Linked DNA regions of Homo sapiens: all the other regions are reported to be linked to region 3. The links are microRNA targets in miRTarBase. Many come from high-throughput screens and were not tested one by one. Region 3 holds a microRNA gene; each other region holds the end of a gene's coding sequence.

Region 1 (5,000 bases), not on the chromosome of region 3:
CGAGCAATTAACAATATTTAATGAGAAAAATGAATTTTTGATAATTATGCCTAGCAGTAGCATACTGGGTCACATGATATTCCAATCAACTCTATCTATAGTCTTACTGCTGCAGAGAGCATCTTTTGAAAAAGGCAGAAAGAATCTTGTCTGTTGAAGATGTCTGGTGGCGTCTCCTTTCCTACACTGGTTTCTTTCTACCAAGCAAACTGTTGGTACCCAACCCAGAGCTGTCTTTGTGCATTCTCACCTTTCTAACCACCTCATTCTCCCCACAAGTTCCCTGGGGAGTTGCTAAGTCATTTTAATTCCATGACTTCCTTCACCTTTATCTAGTACCTGAAGAGTATGCTGAATCTGTGGGGATGGTACTTTCCTAATTCTTCAAGAAAAACCTAAAGCCATCTTTCAGTTAAATCATCTTAACGTACTTGAGGATACACATTCTCACTCTCTTATCCATAAACAACTTCATTTTTCTTCCACTTCAAGCACGAAATCTGATTTTAATCCAGCACCTTGTTGGAGATTCCTCGGATTTTTAAAGTAGCATGCCCTGGGCATATATTTGATATAAAATAAACATCATGAATAGTATTAGTTTTCATTTAAAAATATATATAAAGGTGCATTAATTGCCAGTTTTAACTTAATGATAAGTTCTCTGTATGTATGAAGTGTTAAGAGATTTTCTTAATTGATTATCATAATAAACACTTTAATCCAAATTTACAAATGAGAAAACTAAGAGAAAGAGTTAAGTGACTTATTCAAGGTTACACAGCTGATACCTAAATGGCAGAACTTCGACAAAAGCCCAGGTCTTCTGCTTCCTTGCATGCTACACCAAGTCCCTGTATGACCATATTAATTACCAAGTTGAAGCATTTCTTTAATTGTGAAATTACTTTCACTTCTACAGTGGCATATCTCAGTTGAAACTAAAAAAGTCAGCATGTTTTTTAATGAACAGGTCCTCTTTTGCTCATGTTTGCTTAGAAGTGAAAATAATACTGCTAATTTCCTGGAGAAGATACCTTCAAGGGCAGAGACCACAACTGCAAATTGATGTTCCCCAACAGTACTAGGTAGTGCTGGGCACACAGTAGATGTTTGATAAATACCTGTTGATCCCATATAAATAAATACAGTAGACTATAATTGAAAAGGCAATAATTAGGATTATTTAAAAATAGAAAAGTATTCAAGCTAAGTAATTAGTGATAAAGATGGGCTTGTTTCCTCTGAGTTTATGATTTCAGTCAGAATCTTCAATTCTGTATGCTTAAAAATGAACTGATACTTATGAAGTTCAATGTATTTCTAGGATACTGAACTACTACAAACTGCCAACTTTATATTGTTTACATCACTCATCAATATTGAAAAGCATAATATTATGTGACATTGTAAATTATAATCCAATGGATCCCAGCTGAACAGTCACTTATTTGAAACAATACAGGAAAATTATCATCTATTCCTATTACTAAAGTTGCATATGTTAATCATAATTCTCAATTTTACATATTTGTATTTGGTTACAACTAGCTAAATGCTATCAGTGCTGTCTTCCTAAGTTGCTGTGTCTGTATGGTATAAATGAGGTTCTCTATTACTGTTAAGCCCAGGTACTCGCAGCAGCTACCACAAAGTTCAGCCATTTCCATGAGATAAAGGGATGCATTATGGCCAGTAATGTTATAAGACGTTTGACCAGGAGTCACTGGATCAGTGGCCGAATTTTCACCAATTCAGAAAAAGACACATGGATTCTATTCAAGTGGTTCTATTACCTCGCTGAAAGTTTTCTAACTTAGCCACTTATTAAGGGGCTAAAACTACTAAAAATGAATCCACAGTACCTTCACTTTAGAATTCCACACACGGGCTACTCCAAATTAGTACTTCTCAGCCTAAGGACACAGTGGATACTGGCCACAATTTTAATTCATAAAAATAAATTAAATTTCATTTTAATTCATAAAAATAAAGTTTAATTTTAATTTTTGTGACTAAAGAAAAAAATAGAAAATACTCAAGAGCTGTGAAAAACGTAAAGGAAAAAAGAAAACCCAGATCATGATATAACACGAAAAGGAAATTATAGCTCTTACACCTCGTATTTCTTAACCCAAAATAAAAACATGACTATTGTAACACCGACTCAGGATCTACAGAAAAGCAAAAATCACAAGAATATACTGTGTGGGAAGGTAGGGGAATCAGTCAAACCCAGATTTTTGACATCCTGAGATAAGATGACTCTACCCATCTTTCCACTGGTTTTGGCATAGTGTAGACAGGGTTTACACGGGTTGTTTATAGACACTAAGGATTTCCATAAAAATTCTTTTTCCTGATACCCAGATAAGATTCAGACTTTGGTCCAGTCACTCTGAACCAGAAAGGCTACTTCATAAACTATTTCATATTTATCCCATGACATTTTGGAATGGGGACACAAGAAGTATTTCTCTTTGAAAATATACATTTGAATGCAACCATGAAAGATGATGGTACAGACTTTTTTCTTCTTAGCAATTCAAGTGATACTTAATAGAGAAGGGTAAGTCCTGCTATCTTGCTGAGTAAAAAAAAGACAAATCCATAATATGGCCATATTTCTTCTCCATAAAAATAAATTTTATCTATTTGCCTATATTTTCTTTGTAGGAATTTGTAAAATGCTCTATTGTCAGACTTGGGAACATTTCTGCCCCACCCCCAGAAATCACTTATTTTTATGCCATGGATGGAAAAAAGGGAAAATAGAAGCTACTATAAGCAAATGAAAACTGGCATTTAGTAAAAATCATACATAAAGGAGATAAATGAATACCTTAAAGTTTAACCAGATACTTAACCTCAATATGTACTGGTCAGGTTAGGATAGATGGAAGAAACTGCCAAAAGCACCCATTTTACTCCAAATCCATATCTTAAGTAATTCTTTAGAAAATTAAGAAATAAAAAAAGTAAATACACACAAAAGATCTATTCCAACATGCTTGCTTCTATACAACTTAATGTAGTATTAATCCTATTATATTACGGCTTATGATGCAGATTTGAATATCCTAAATAACATTTCCCAACAAATCAGGTATGGAGCATAAAAGTATCATAAGGTATAACCTCTGCAGCAGGTGCCAGTCCTGTTGTCCAACAGCAGCAGTACGAAGAAGGCCTGCTGTAGTTACAAATGTACTTGGAAAAACTATAAACATGACAATTTAACCAAACTTATAATACTTTTCCCACAAGTAGGAAAAATATATTAAAGCTGCTCTCTTTGGGACCCAGATATCATCAGCAGAAATGAAAATGCAAAAGCCTATTTTTTTTAATGTTGAGAAGAAAATCACAATGTCAAACGAAATGAGAAATGAGGGATCTTTCATGGAGTTCTTACACATTGGCTACGAAAGTGTTTCCCTGCAAAGAGAAGAGTCTTACTGGGTCATCACAAAATGATGGGGAGTGCAGAGGGAAGGTGGGATATAAGGTAATCAACCTGGATAACAGTATGCACCTTGGATGTTAGCAAAAGCGAAGCTAATAGCTTATAAAAAACACATGAAATATATAAAATAAAATGATTTTCATATACATCTTAATTTAAAATAATTAATGCATCAAATCCCTGTTTAAGACTTTAACCTGAATATCAAATTTAAGAGTCCAGACTAGTTACTGTTACTGTGGCCCTTCCCCACATGTAACACACACACTATCAAAAATAATTTAAAAACCTTCACATTCTTACATCTAAATTAGTGAGATATTTCTCCAGAAATCTTCCAAATAAATAGCTTTAAAAAAAGAATTTAAAAGCTGTTAACTTTAAAAAAAAATCTGTTAAATAAATTATTGATAATTCTTTACCCTACCACTGAAAATACATCAAGACACTACCAACAACAAAATAAAATTCAAGCCCTGACAAGAGACCCTTTCCAGTTCAAGGTCTCTTTTTAAGGTTCTACCCTCCTTCTTCCTCTCCCCCACCAGGTCCAAAATGGTTATTGCTGAGTGGGTGTGGCACAGTGAAAATGCAGCATCAGGTTCATTCTGTTCTTCGGGCAGTGTTCTTACTATACACACAAACTGCTCCAGGCAGGGGGACAGCGGAAGCTCCAGGCTCCTGCACCCCTAGACTGGTCTCCAAAGGGAAGAATGGCTGCAACAGCAGCTCTGTCACACAAAGAAACGTGCATGGCCATTTCTGTTCAACTTAAGGATCTTCCCAAGACGTTGTTTGGCTGTTGCCATTCCTTTTTTTGGACGTTTACCTATAAAACACCAAAAGGGAGTGTAAGTAATGATGAAAAGTACACTTAAGAGAGCACCTGGAAGACTACGGGGAGAGCTTTCTTTATGGGAAGTAAGCCCTTAGGTGTTCTGCATGGACAGAGTCATACTTCTGAACTTCCGCTGTTTAAAACCCTTCCACCTCATCACACTAGGCCCTCACAAGACTCACAAGGCTTCCCACAGTCTGGTCTGCCTGCTCTTCAGCCTGGGCTCTTCCCTATCCTGCATTACACTATGCTTAGGCAACAAAACTGACTACCATTTCACAAATACCCCATATCCTGCTTCTCCCCTTTGTGCCCTGCCTCAGGCTCAATCCTCTGCCTTCAAAGCTGTCTATTCTGTCACTTTCCCCAATTCAGCCTGGCTAACCCCTGAACATCTGATTTTAGGATCTGTCTCTCGCTCCTCAGAGCTGACTTGGGTATCCTTTTTCTTTGTTCCTGTAGTAGCCTGTGTATACTGCCATCACTATGCTGTCTACTATGCATGAGATGTTGAACAACTTGAGTGCAGAGACTACACCTCAACTGCCATGATGACCATCACATACAGTCAGAAATATACTTTCTCTATACATGTGTGAAAGTTACCTTTTGTTGCCTGGTTGCTGATAGGTGGTGGATTTGATGCCGGTCTCTTGGTGGGGTGAAGGGGCACCGAGAAGGAAGTTTCACCAACTG
Region 2 (5,000 bases), not on the chromosome of region 3:
CTATTTAAAGCCCTGGCAGAGGCTCCTGGCGCAGGTCCCCAGAACAGCATCTGATACAACAGGAGAGAGGCTCATGTTTGGCCAGGCGGCTCAGCAGGCTCAAGTGAGCTGGCCCAGGGCAGTGCACACAGCCACCCAGCCCACCTTCCCCATCCCCGGGCAGGAGTGGCTTCCTGGGGTTGGGCCTCTTGGCTGATGTGGGGAGCCATGGGCACTGCTCCTGAGGGCACCTGCTCAGGGCTTCTTCCTGGGTACTTCCAACACTCAGAACACTCCACAAGGGTAAAGAGTAATTCCGAACTTTTTCAATAACCAGGGGCCCAGACTGGGGACAACAGAAATCCCTCTCCTTCCCCACCGGAGCTGCTAGAGTAGACAGTGGTAATGCTGCTGACAGAGGGAGCACCCCTGTGGTTCCCATCCTCAGCTGCTTCACTGGGGGGTCAGAAACCTCATTATTCTCAGAGCTGCTTTGCTTGGAATCTCCAAGAGTTGGGGCGGCACCCCCCCCACACCCTCCAGAGGATCTGCGACTAGAAATAACATGGCCAGCATGGAAAACATGTATCAGGACCCAGCTAGAAGGGTCAGAGGCTCTGCTGGGACTGTCACAGTCATTGTGGGCACATCTATTTGTGGAGGCCTGGAGGGAAGGGCAGGTGGGTTGTCTCTGCCATTTCCTGGGCATTCAGCACATATCATCCTTTGTGCCTGACCAACCCAGGACCCAGAGAGAACAGGGTGCTGGGTGAGGCCACCAGCAGCATGTCTCCCATATAGGAGTCCCATGCTTGAGGTGGGTAAATGGGGGGTGTAAAAACTGAACAGAGAATGTGCTCTCCTTAAGGAATGCATACAATTAGAGGCCCCTGTGAATTCCCTTGGGCAGGCCAGGGCTATAGGAGCCTACCCACAGCTCAGACCCAAATAGCAGTGATGAGTGTCCACCCCTCTTAACCTGGGCCTCAAATGGCCTATGCCTGGCTCCATGCCTTTTGCCTTACTGCTGGAGCCTATCAATTTCCTATTGAAACACCTTCAGTTGCCCCCCCTGCCCTCTGGATCTAGCCCACATTCCTTAACCTGGTACCCAGACTCTGGGCCCAGCCTCACCCCCTCTCCCAGTCCCATGGACCTGCTTCCCAGCTGTACCATTTAATCACTAAATGACGTTCATCTTCTACCTGCCCTGTGGTTCAGAAGGCCATTCCAGGTATCACCCCCTCACCTTGCTGAAGGGGGCAGGGGCCTCCTCTCTGCTCTCAGCACCATTGACCTGTCTATAGCTAAAAGTACCTTTTCCCTTCACTAGCCTGTGAGCCCCCAGGTCAGGGAAAACTTTTTTGTGTGTGTGTGATCCTCTCTGAGGCAAGGGTCTTGCCAACTTTGCCAAGGGCTCCACTCAGGCAGCTCAAGTGAATATGCCAGCATCCTGAGGCTGTGGCGACTGCTCAAAGACACTGTGGAATATGTAAGATACCAGGGAACCACCATGGGCGCTCTGCAGCAGACCTGAACAAGTCAGTGATGATGGAAGGGGCTGAATGGATCAGATCCAGAAACAAAGGAATACACAGGTCAGGAGAGAAACAAGTAAGGCAACAGACTCTTTATTTAATGTGGTTTAAAATACATCAAAATCAAGTCCCTGGCTGTTGTGAATACCCAAAGGAGACAAAAAAGCTGCCAGTGCAGCTTCAAACAAGTCTGAGTGGCCGGGCTGGGCCATAAGGAAAGCAGTTACAGGGACAGAAGGCAGCTCCCTTCCCCCAGGAAGGGCAAGAGGAGCAGGTGCCTGGCTGTCCCTGGGGTGACCACCTCTGTGCTGTGCAAGGCGGAAAGGCTGGGGCAGCAGCTGGAGAATCAGCTCAGCAGGCCTTGGCCCTCCCCCGTGGACACCAGGCAGCTCCACTGGCCTCCGGGTCAGCCCTCAGGGCCACCGTGATGGGGTGGAGGAGGGTTAAATAACCATCTTTACAGAAATAACAGTCTCCTACAGAAAGTGCCTGAGCTCAGCCCATGGTCCGATAACCTCATGGAAAACAAACAACAAATAAAAAAAAAAAGTGCTGCTGACACCTCTCAGAATCTGGTGGACATGAAGCTCTCAGCTGGACAAGGCCCTGAAAACAATTTACTATTAGCAGAGCCATGCGCTCTTGAGCTTCACCTGCTGTGGTCCCCTGGAGGAAAAGCTAGCAATCTAAGAAACCAACACAGATCTTGGTCCTAAAACTGAGGTCACAAGTGTGGGACCCACCCAGGTGAGGAAGACACTGGCCTTCACTCATGGATAGGCACCTCCCCTGCATCTGGCCCAGGACCTGGGCTACTTTGGAAAGCAGAAGCAGAGCAGCTGTAGTGATTGGTTGATTTGGTCAATGAAGAGAAGAAAAAGGTAGGGAACCTCATCTGCAGACTGGCCTGAAGGTCTAGACATGGATGGAGCTGTGAGCAAAGGCTGCACCTTGCCTGGGGCCCACATTCCTGACCTGGGAAACCCAGCTGGGGCCACCTGCTCACTGTGGCCTCCTACACCACCACACTGGGATCCAGCAGCTCCAGTCCCTCCACAGGCATTAAGAGGTAGCTGAAGTGTGAGTCAGGCAATTATGTGGGCCACTGTAGGCCTTTCCCCTCTCTTCAAGGGGGAAGGTGCATACCTCTGCCTCTTCCCTGCACCTCTCTCGCCTAGCAAACACTCTGTGAGGTTGGCAGCTCTTGTACCAGCTTAGCCTGGCACAGGGGCTGGGGTAGGGAAAAGGCCCTACTGGAGCAGGAAGAGGCAAGGACTACTCCAGACAGAGGGATTCAAAGGGGAAGAAAAAGGTCATGGGAAACACTTCACAGGACAGCAGTATCTCAGCCAGAGATGGCAGAGATCTCAACACTCACACAGCTGCTTGAGGGCACCTAGATGTGAAGGATACACCAGAGAATAGCAGGCAACTCTGATGCAGATCAGTGGTACCTGCCCTGGGGCAGGAGAAGGAGAAATGGTGTGCCATTCATTTGCCATCTCTGGTCTCAGTCACACATGATTCAGTACTTAACATTCTTTGTGAACCAACTTATCTGAGAGATTTAAGGTAAGGGCTAAAAGAGTGGGCTAGGTATGGAAGATGAAGGGACCTGCAGGACAATGAACTAGCTTCAAAGAAAAACAGCAAGAAGCAAAGCCCTAACCATCCTATCCATCTTGGTCTGAGTCATTCTGTTGTCCCAGAAAACTGCTTGGCACAAACACTGGCTAATACCCTGGCAAGTTTGCAACAGCAGAACATTCAGCATATAGAATGGCTCTACACAGTACATAGTAGTTATGTACTGGAGTGGGGGTAGAACAGGACACAGAAACAACTGTCTGCAGCCATTTTATGGATTTCTGGGGCCCAGTCAATAGTTCAATTTCATTTCTTACCTGTTAGACAACAGCTATGGGCTCCCACACAGGAAGAAGTAGAATCCCCAAGGACAGGCAGGGAGGTGCCAGGAAATAGAATCAGGACAAATCTTGAGGATTGCACATGTGGGGGTGGGGGCAGGAAGCAGAAAAACCCATGAAGCCAAAGAGGCAGCTGGACATGGGACCCAGCAACTGCTGCATGGAGACAGTGCTGATGGGAACTGGTGGTGGCCTCTCAGGACTGAAACCCACAGGTAAGCTTGTGGCAAAGCCATCAGAAGCCCTTTCCTTTCTTTTACCACAAACAACCTGATCTCACCAAACAGGAAACCTCAGCATCAAGATGGCAAAGGAGCCAAGTGGGGTGGTGAAGGAGGTGGGACACTGGAGGCCAGGCACCCAGGCACCACTGCTACAGCATCCCTCTTCCTTGGAAGGTCCTCAATACAAACACTGTCATGTGCAAAAAAAAAAGAAAAAGAAAAAAAAAAAAAAAGAAAAAGAAATAAAGAAAAAAACACCTTCAGAAATAATCCTTTGGGTGATCTCTTGTCAATCATTTGTGCAGGCTAGAGAGGCACCTGTGAATGATAAGGCTACTGAGAAGCATCATTGGCCTGGTCCTGGCACTACCAAAGGGCAGGGGAAGCGATGCCCAAGGGGCTCCTGACCAGCACATCATCCCACGCAAAAACATTCTCCAGGTCCCTTGTTCCAGGCAGGAAATCCCCAGCTCTGAGCGCCCTGCCAGGGCTCTGCCTAGGGACACCTTTTCCAGGTCTAGAGAATCAAAGGAGCCTCCAGAGCAGCTAGGAGGGCCTGAGCTGACCAAGCAAGCCCTGCTCACAAGACAAATGCAGTCAAGACCTGGGTGTATTACTTGTCTTGAGCTCTGAAGGGCAGGGAGGGGTCTGAGCCTCAAATCAGACAGAGAAATGCTCAAGTCACTTCTGCCAACTCACTGTGATGGCAGCTACAGATGACAGCCCCTCTCAAGACTCTTCAGCTCACAGACAAGCCACTGACTTCATCTGTACACACCCCCATCCCCAATGCAAGCCCACTGTACACTTACAGGTATAAATGCATTTGCAAGGCCTTGCAAAATGCCCTATGTACGTAAAACTGACCCACAAAATCCAAAATTGCAAGTGCCAGATGCCAGCCAGGTCAGAACATCCTGGCTTCAGCAATGGGCTGCTCAGCATGGGAGCCTTTTATGGGCCAGGCCTGGCTGGGCTGCCGCTCCCTTCCCAGCATGACCCAACACCAGGCTCTCTAGGCCCTGGCGGAGGTGGGCTCTTGAGGCCCAGTCTGGCCTGATGCTTCTGTGCTCGGTGCTCCTGGGTAGCAAGGCGCTTCTGTGACCCTGGGGGAGCTGGGTGCTTGAGCCCCAGGCCCCTCTGGCCTCCTCTCAGGGCCACTGTCAGTGAGGGAGCCCTGGCCACCAGCACTCAGGTCCTGTACCCTCTTGTTCAGGTCATTGCGCTCTGTCTGCAGTGCCCGGCACAGCTTCTCCAGCCGTTGGATTTTTACCTGCAGGCCCTCCAGTTCTTTATCCCGGACTGTTTTCTAGGGAAAGAAATGAGACCTT
Region 3 (5,136 bases):
GAGAAACACTACTCTAGCCAACTATTCATATGCACACGCACACAAACACACACACACACACACACACACCCCAGAGGTGCTGTCGACCACAACGTCTTATTCCATGAGAGTCTGTCTAAGATGGGGTGGTTCCCAAGGAAGGCACGAAGCCATGCCACGTCCACCAAGAATAATCCAAATACCCAACAGGCAGCTGCTTAGGAGCTGCCAAAAAGTAGTAATAGTAACAGGAAATGTACGGAGTTTTTACTAATGTTTGCATTCCCTACAGGAAGTGTTTCATACTCAGAATGAAGGCTACAGATAGGAGAGGCTGGACCCAGGTTCCCCGGTCCACCATCTACCTAGAGAGAGGCTTGACCCCGGCATCTCTCCAAGGAATTCCTCGTGGCTAAGATTTAATAACAAGAAGAGAAAGAGAGATGAAATAATTGTGAACATCTTCCAATAAAAAGATATGGCACCAAGCCCCTAAATGGCATCTCCACCCCAAAGCTAGCATTTGTCCAAGGAAATCACACTGGTGGCTTGCATTCTGAGATCACTGGATTCATCATTATAAATCATCAACACAGTCACACTCCATGGTGGGGCAGGCACCAATGTCCCCTCACTGAAGTCAGCACTGTGCTTTCAAAAACTTCTGAAGCAAATTTGGATACTAAAACAATGGTTGTCCGATATTAATCATCATAAATATAGAGACCATACTACGGACAGCCATTCTTTAAGCACCAAAGAACTGTGCCATCAAGAAGAGCTGGGCATCTTCTCCAAAGTTGGTGTCTCTTCCAGAAAGTTCTTCTCAGGTAGTCCAAACAATGAGGATTAGCAGGTCAGCTTCACACATTGAGAGTCAAGCCCATGCCTGGGGGTCAGTCACACTCTTGGGCAGGGGAAGGGGGTCTGGCCCCAATGATCGGTCCCTAAGGTTTGCTTCATGTCCAAGAAGTGCCTCCAAGAAGCAGGATTTGATAAGTAGCTTGAATGCTGCGTCACCCACAACACACACCCATGGCCAATGCAAATCCCTGATAGCACCAAGGAGTCCCGTGGCCCCCTGCCAAGCGTGGCCCCGCCTCCAGGGTTCTGAGGTTAGGGCACAAGTGTCCCCACCACAAACCAACTGCATGCGCCCTCATCCCCACCCAGGCGTGAGCCCCTGGGAAGGGCTGATGCGTGCATCCCTTTACAGAACTTGTCATGGCGTCCAGGAAGTCTGCCGAGGCAAGATTTGATACTCAAAAAGAAATTGTCCTTGTATGATTCATCATAAATAAAGCGAACACACCAAGGATAATTTCTCCTCAAGTATGAAACAGCAGCACGGACCACCACCTCCAGGTCTTTGGCTCAAGGTTAGATGGTGACTGCTTCGTGGCAAACCCAGTCACACACTCGCTCATGCACACACACCACGCACACACAGGCATGCACAATGCATGCACCAAGTTTGACCTCTCTTTAAGCACCAGGGAAGCAAGATGCCATAGAATCCTCACTCAGCTTGGCATCCTCGCTCAAGACTCCTTCAAAGCGTAGATAGTGGCCGAGGTCAAGAACCCAGGGACTGTCTCTCTTAAGTGGAGCAAATGTTCTCGGCACCCCTGCTGACCCCCACTGCATGTGGCATTCTGTATCAAAAGCCACTGTGTGAATGGCTTAGCTGCCAAGCATCAAGAGCATCACTAGCCCCCATTGTAAACACCGTGTATGCTCTGGGCTTCCTAGTCCATTCCATACCCGATGAAGGACTTGACTTCCATGTTTTGACACTGTTCCAAAAACCCATGGAGAGATTTTAGTCATAAAACCACCACCACCACCACCACCACCACCACCAATGATAGTTTCACAGCACACAAGGGTCCTGGCTACCACCTACGAAGTGCCGACCACGGGGCTCTGCTCTGAGCCGTGTACAAGTCTTAACTCGTTCAGCCCCAGCAGCCCCAAGAAATGGACGCCAATGTGATTCCCCTTTGACATGTGAGACAATGGGCACAGCACGATGAGATCCTTGCCCAAGGTTGGACGGTTAGTAAATGTCAGAGGTGGGATCCAAACACAGGAAATCGAGCTCCAGAGTCTGCGCTCTTGATACTGAAAAAGTGGATGACCCTGTACGATTCGACATGAGCAAAACGAACAGGACAGGGATAACCACTCTCCAAGTACCAAAGGTTAGCACGGAAAAGAAAGCCACTGCCTTGGGTGGACTTGGTACGTCTTCAAGGCGCGGTCCTGGGGATGAATTAGATGCTGAGGGTTAGTGGACCGGGTCACATACCCCAAGCAGAACATGCACACTCACGGACCGAGTAACAGCAGGGACCACAAAGCCACTACCCCACACGAGCGCCACCCCAGCCATCGGCCCGGGCTGATGACTTCCCGCTCAGGAAGCAGGGACCCAGACCACACACATCGTGCATGCTTTTGGCCCCGCCCACACTGCACCAGGAGAGGGGATGTCCCAGAGGCCACTGCCTTCCCTAAAGTCATCCAGGTGCCCGTGAAGTCCTCTCTGTGAAGTGGGGACCCGTGAACGATTTGCCACACACAAAACGGATACACACGGTCATGCACACACATACCGCATCCCTTGCTGAGTGTGGACTGGGTCCAAGACAAGGTTTGATACTCACAGAGAGCTTGCCCTTGTATATTCCATGTCAATAAACCGAATATACAAAGGGCAACCTCGCTTTAAGTACCAAACAATAGCACTGGGCAGGTTCCTCACTATCATTCACGGGGCCGGCCTCCTCTCCCGGGGTTCATCCTGGCGGGGGAGGGGGTGGGAGATGCGGGATCAGCAGACCAGGTGGCAAACACCACCTGCCAGCTGTGTGCCCATAGGTCAGCTCTCCATCCCAAAGGGGCCAGGAAGGGGCAGACGCCAGTGCCCCTTCACCAGAATCAGCCTCTTTTCCAGGCATCACTCCAGATTAGAACTTGTTCCTGAAAAGGAGATCCACCCCACGGGCCTTCCTGGGCACACGCAGAGCTCAGCTTCTCACTTTCTATAGGAATTCCCTGGGGTGGGACCACCATCTCCTTCCCAGTGTGGGCACCTCTCCAGGAAGTTTTCCTAAGGATGCACTCAGCACCGAGGTCCCAGGCACTGGATGAATTTACACCTTAGACAAAGCAAAGGCCCTGTGGTCACCATCCCTTCATCCATCTCACAGAGCCGTTGACACCAGTGTCATTCTCCATGCCAGCCCTTGCCCCACCCCTGCCAGAGGCTGGCATCGTGGCCATGAAGCCATGCTAAGAAAGAGCACAGGGTCAACAGTAGTAAACCCCACGTACCCCCAAGTAACTGAGGAAGCAGACCCACAGCCCATTCCCCACAGTGGTCTCTCCTTCAAGAAGGGGAGAGGAGCGGGAGCCGCCTGGTCCAGGTGGCAGGTTATGTGACTCATTACCCAGGCGTGGTGCTCACCTCTCTTCAGCTGGACGTTCGCTTTCCTTGGGCTGAGGATGCTGCGAATGTCCTTCCTGAAGCTGGCTTCGGGTCCAGATGACCCCCATGGCAGTCGGGGTGTAAAAAGCCGGCAGTCACACGGCCCAAGGAGTGTCTCCACAAACACAGAACAAGAGTCCCATTCTCAGGCAGCCATCCTAGGTGTGAGCAGAAAGCCAGCAGTCAGAGACGGGGCACAGACATCGAGGCAGAAGCAGGCGCCCTCTGACCTCCCACATGCACGCACCTGGTGCGGGGCTGACAGCTCCCACGGCTCATCCCCAGCGCTGCCTTCATGGGCAATCACAAATGACAAATAGAAGCAAACCATTCTTACAGATTCAGCCTGGGGACTGCGAGCTGGATCATGAACACCCAAGCATCAAAAAAAAAAAGCGCTGATGAGCACACCTCAGCCCCTTCCCCAAGGTCAATACCACCTCCAGGAAGCCCTCCTGGGGCTGGCCTACCAGGCTCGAAAACAGCATAGACAGAGCCAGTGCTCCGTGGTCCACCATCACTGCTGTCTGTGTTCCCCTTGAAATGATCCAACATCCAGGTCCCCCTTCTAAGGCTGATGCTGGGAACAGGAAGCCTTCTGTGTATGACTTGGTACCAAGAAGAGGCAGATCAATGTGTGATTTATCCTTAAAAAAGCAAACCACCATTAAACTTGGAGCACACAAAAAGGTCCCTCCTCTCCCACTGCTTCCAGGGAGTCCACAGGAAGAACCAGCATAGAGGGCGAAGGCAGAACCCAGGGGCAGCGTCACAGCCAACCTCACGTTCCCGGACATGGAAGCCAGGCCATACCTGAGAGGGGCTGACATCCGAGGCTTTGTCCTGGAGACAAGCAGGGTATGAGTGTCTTCTCCGACAGTTTGATACGCAAATGAGAGTCTCCCCCTGTATATTCGCCATTAATCAAGTGAACATACAAAGGGTATCCTCTCTTTAAGTACCAAAGGGTGGCTCAAAGAGCAGGTGAGGACCATGCCGGGTCTTTGCCGGAGTGGACATCTCCTCCTGCGAGGCCTGAGACCAAGGGGGAGGGGCCCGGTGACAAGCCTCATCTGGCTGACCCTGGAGCTGGGCCTGCACCTTGCACATTGTGGCCTGGCCCCGAAAGGTGGCACATCCAGGACTCCCTGCAGGCGAGACTGGCTTCTAAACAAGGGAACAGGTAGGCATGACTATCAGTGTGCTCAGCATGCATGGGTGAACCTGCTTCAAATACCCACAAGCTACATGGACAATGGAACCATCACCTTTCTCCAAAGGGGCACAGGGTGTGAGGGCTCAGCCCGGCAAGACATGGAGTTATCAGAGAAGAAGGCATCTGCAGGCATTCTCAGAGCTGGAGAGCGCTGAGACAATGTCTCTCCTCTGAGGCTGGTTGTCCTAGAGATGACCAGATCCAAGAATGTGTCACCTGTACCTACCTCGAAACAAACAAAAAGAGGGCCCCAGCGTCAGACTCTAGCGACAAAGGAGTCCTGAAGACCAGACACACCTGCCCAAGGCACACTCAGGTGCAATCACTGGACAATGTGCTCCGAGGACTGGCCATTGGAGTCCAGCGACAGTCCCAGAGGGCACAGGCAGGCTCAGGGAGCTCCACCAGTAACTTGCCTTAGAACAACCTGACATCCATGTGCTTCCCT

The links. Region 3 holds the annotated microRNA hsa-miR-539-5p (GGAGAAAUUAUCCUUGGUGUGU, at 1,286-1,307, opposite strand). A microRNA usually pairs through its seed, bases 2 to 8, with sites in the 3' UTR of a target mRNA and lowers its output. Matches are read on the target gene's strand: a 7mer-m8 pairs with bases 2 to 8, a 7mer-A1 pairs with bases 2 to 7 and ends in A, and an 8mer does both.
Region 1: the mRNA of KDM7A is a reported target of hsa-miR-539-5p. Seed matches in the 3' UTR shown: 8mer at 3,383-3,390, 7mer-A1 at 737-743 and 7mer-A1 at 22-28.
Region 2: miRTarBase lists TXLNA as a target of hsa-miR-539-5p. Seed matches in the 3' UTR shown: 7mer-m8 at 4,337-4,343 and 7mer-m8 at 2,992-2,998.

Annotation. Positions count from the first base shown.
Region 1 is chr7:140,086,894-140,091,893 of GRCh38, forward strand. KDM7A (lysine demethylase 7A) reads right to left here. Exons shown (of 20, transcript NM_030647.2): 19 at 4,911-5,000; 20 at 1-4,295. The coding sequence ends at 4,201. Among named protein-coding and RNA genes, the nearest start is that of PARP12, 26 kb to the left of the region's middle.
Region 2 is chr1:32,194,880-32,199,879 of GRCh38, reverse strand. TXLNA (taxilin alpha) reads right to left here. Exons shown (of 11, transcript NM_175852.4): 11 at 1,595-4,978. The coding sequence ends at 4,685. It also overlaps a transcript of CCDC28B not described here. Among named protein-coding and RNA genes, the nearest start is that of CCDC28B, 3.2 kb to the left of the region's middle. RefSeq lists enhancers at 1-67, 68-626.
Region 3 is chr14:101,043,500-101,048,635 of GRCh38, reverse strand. It overlaps MIR539 (microRNA 539), which reads right to left and starts at 1,315; the gene lies at 1,238-1,315. MIR1185-2 (microRNA 1185-2) reads right to left here and starts at 4,438; the gene lies at 4,353-4,438. MIR381HG (MIR381 host gene) reads right to left here and starts at 3,479. Exons shown (of 3, transcript NR_104192.1): 1 at 3,452-3,479. It overlaps MIR381 (microRNA 381), which reads right to left and starts at 2,716; the gene lies at 2,642-2,716. It also overlaps MIR487B and MIR889. RefSeq lists enhancers at 1,870-2,370, 2,371-2,871.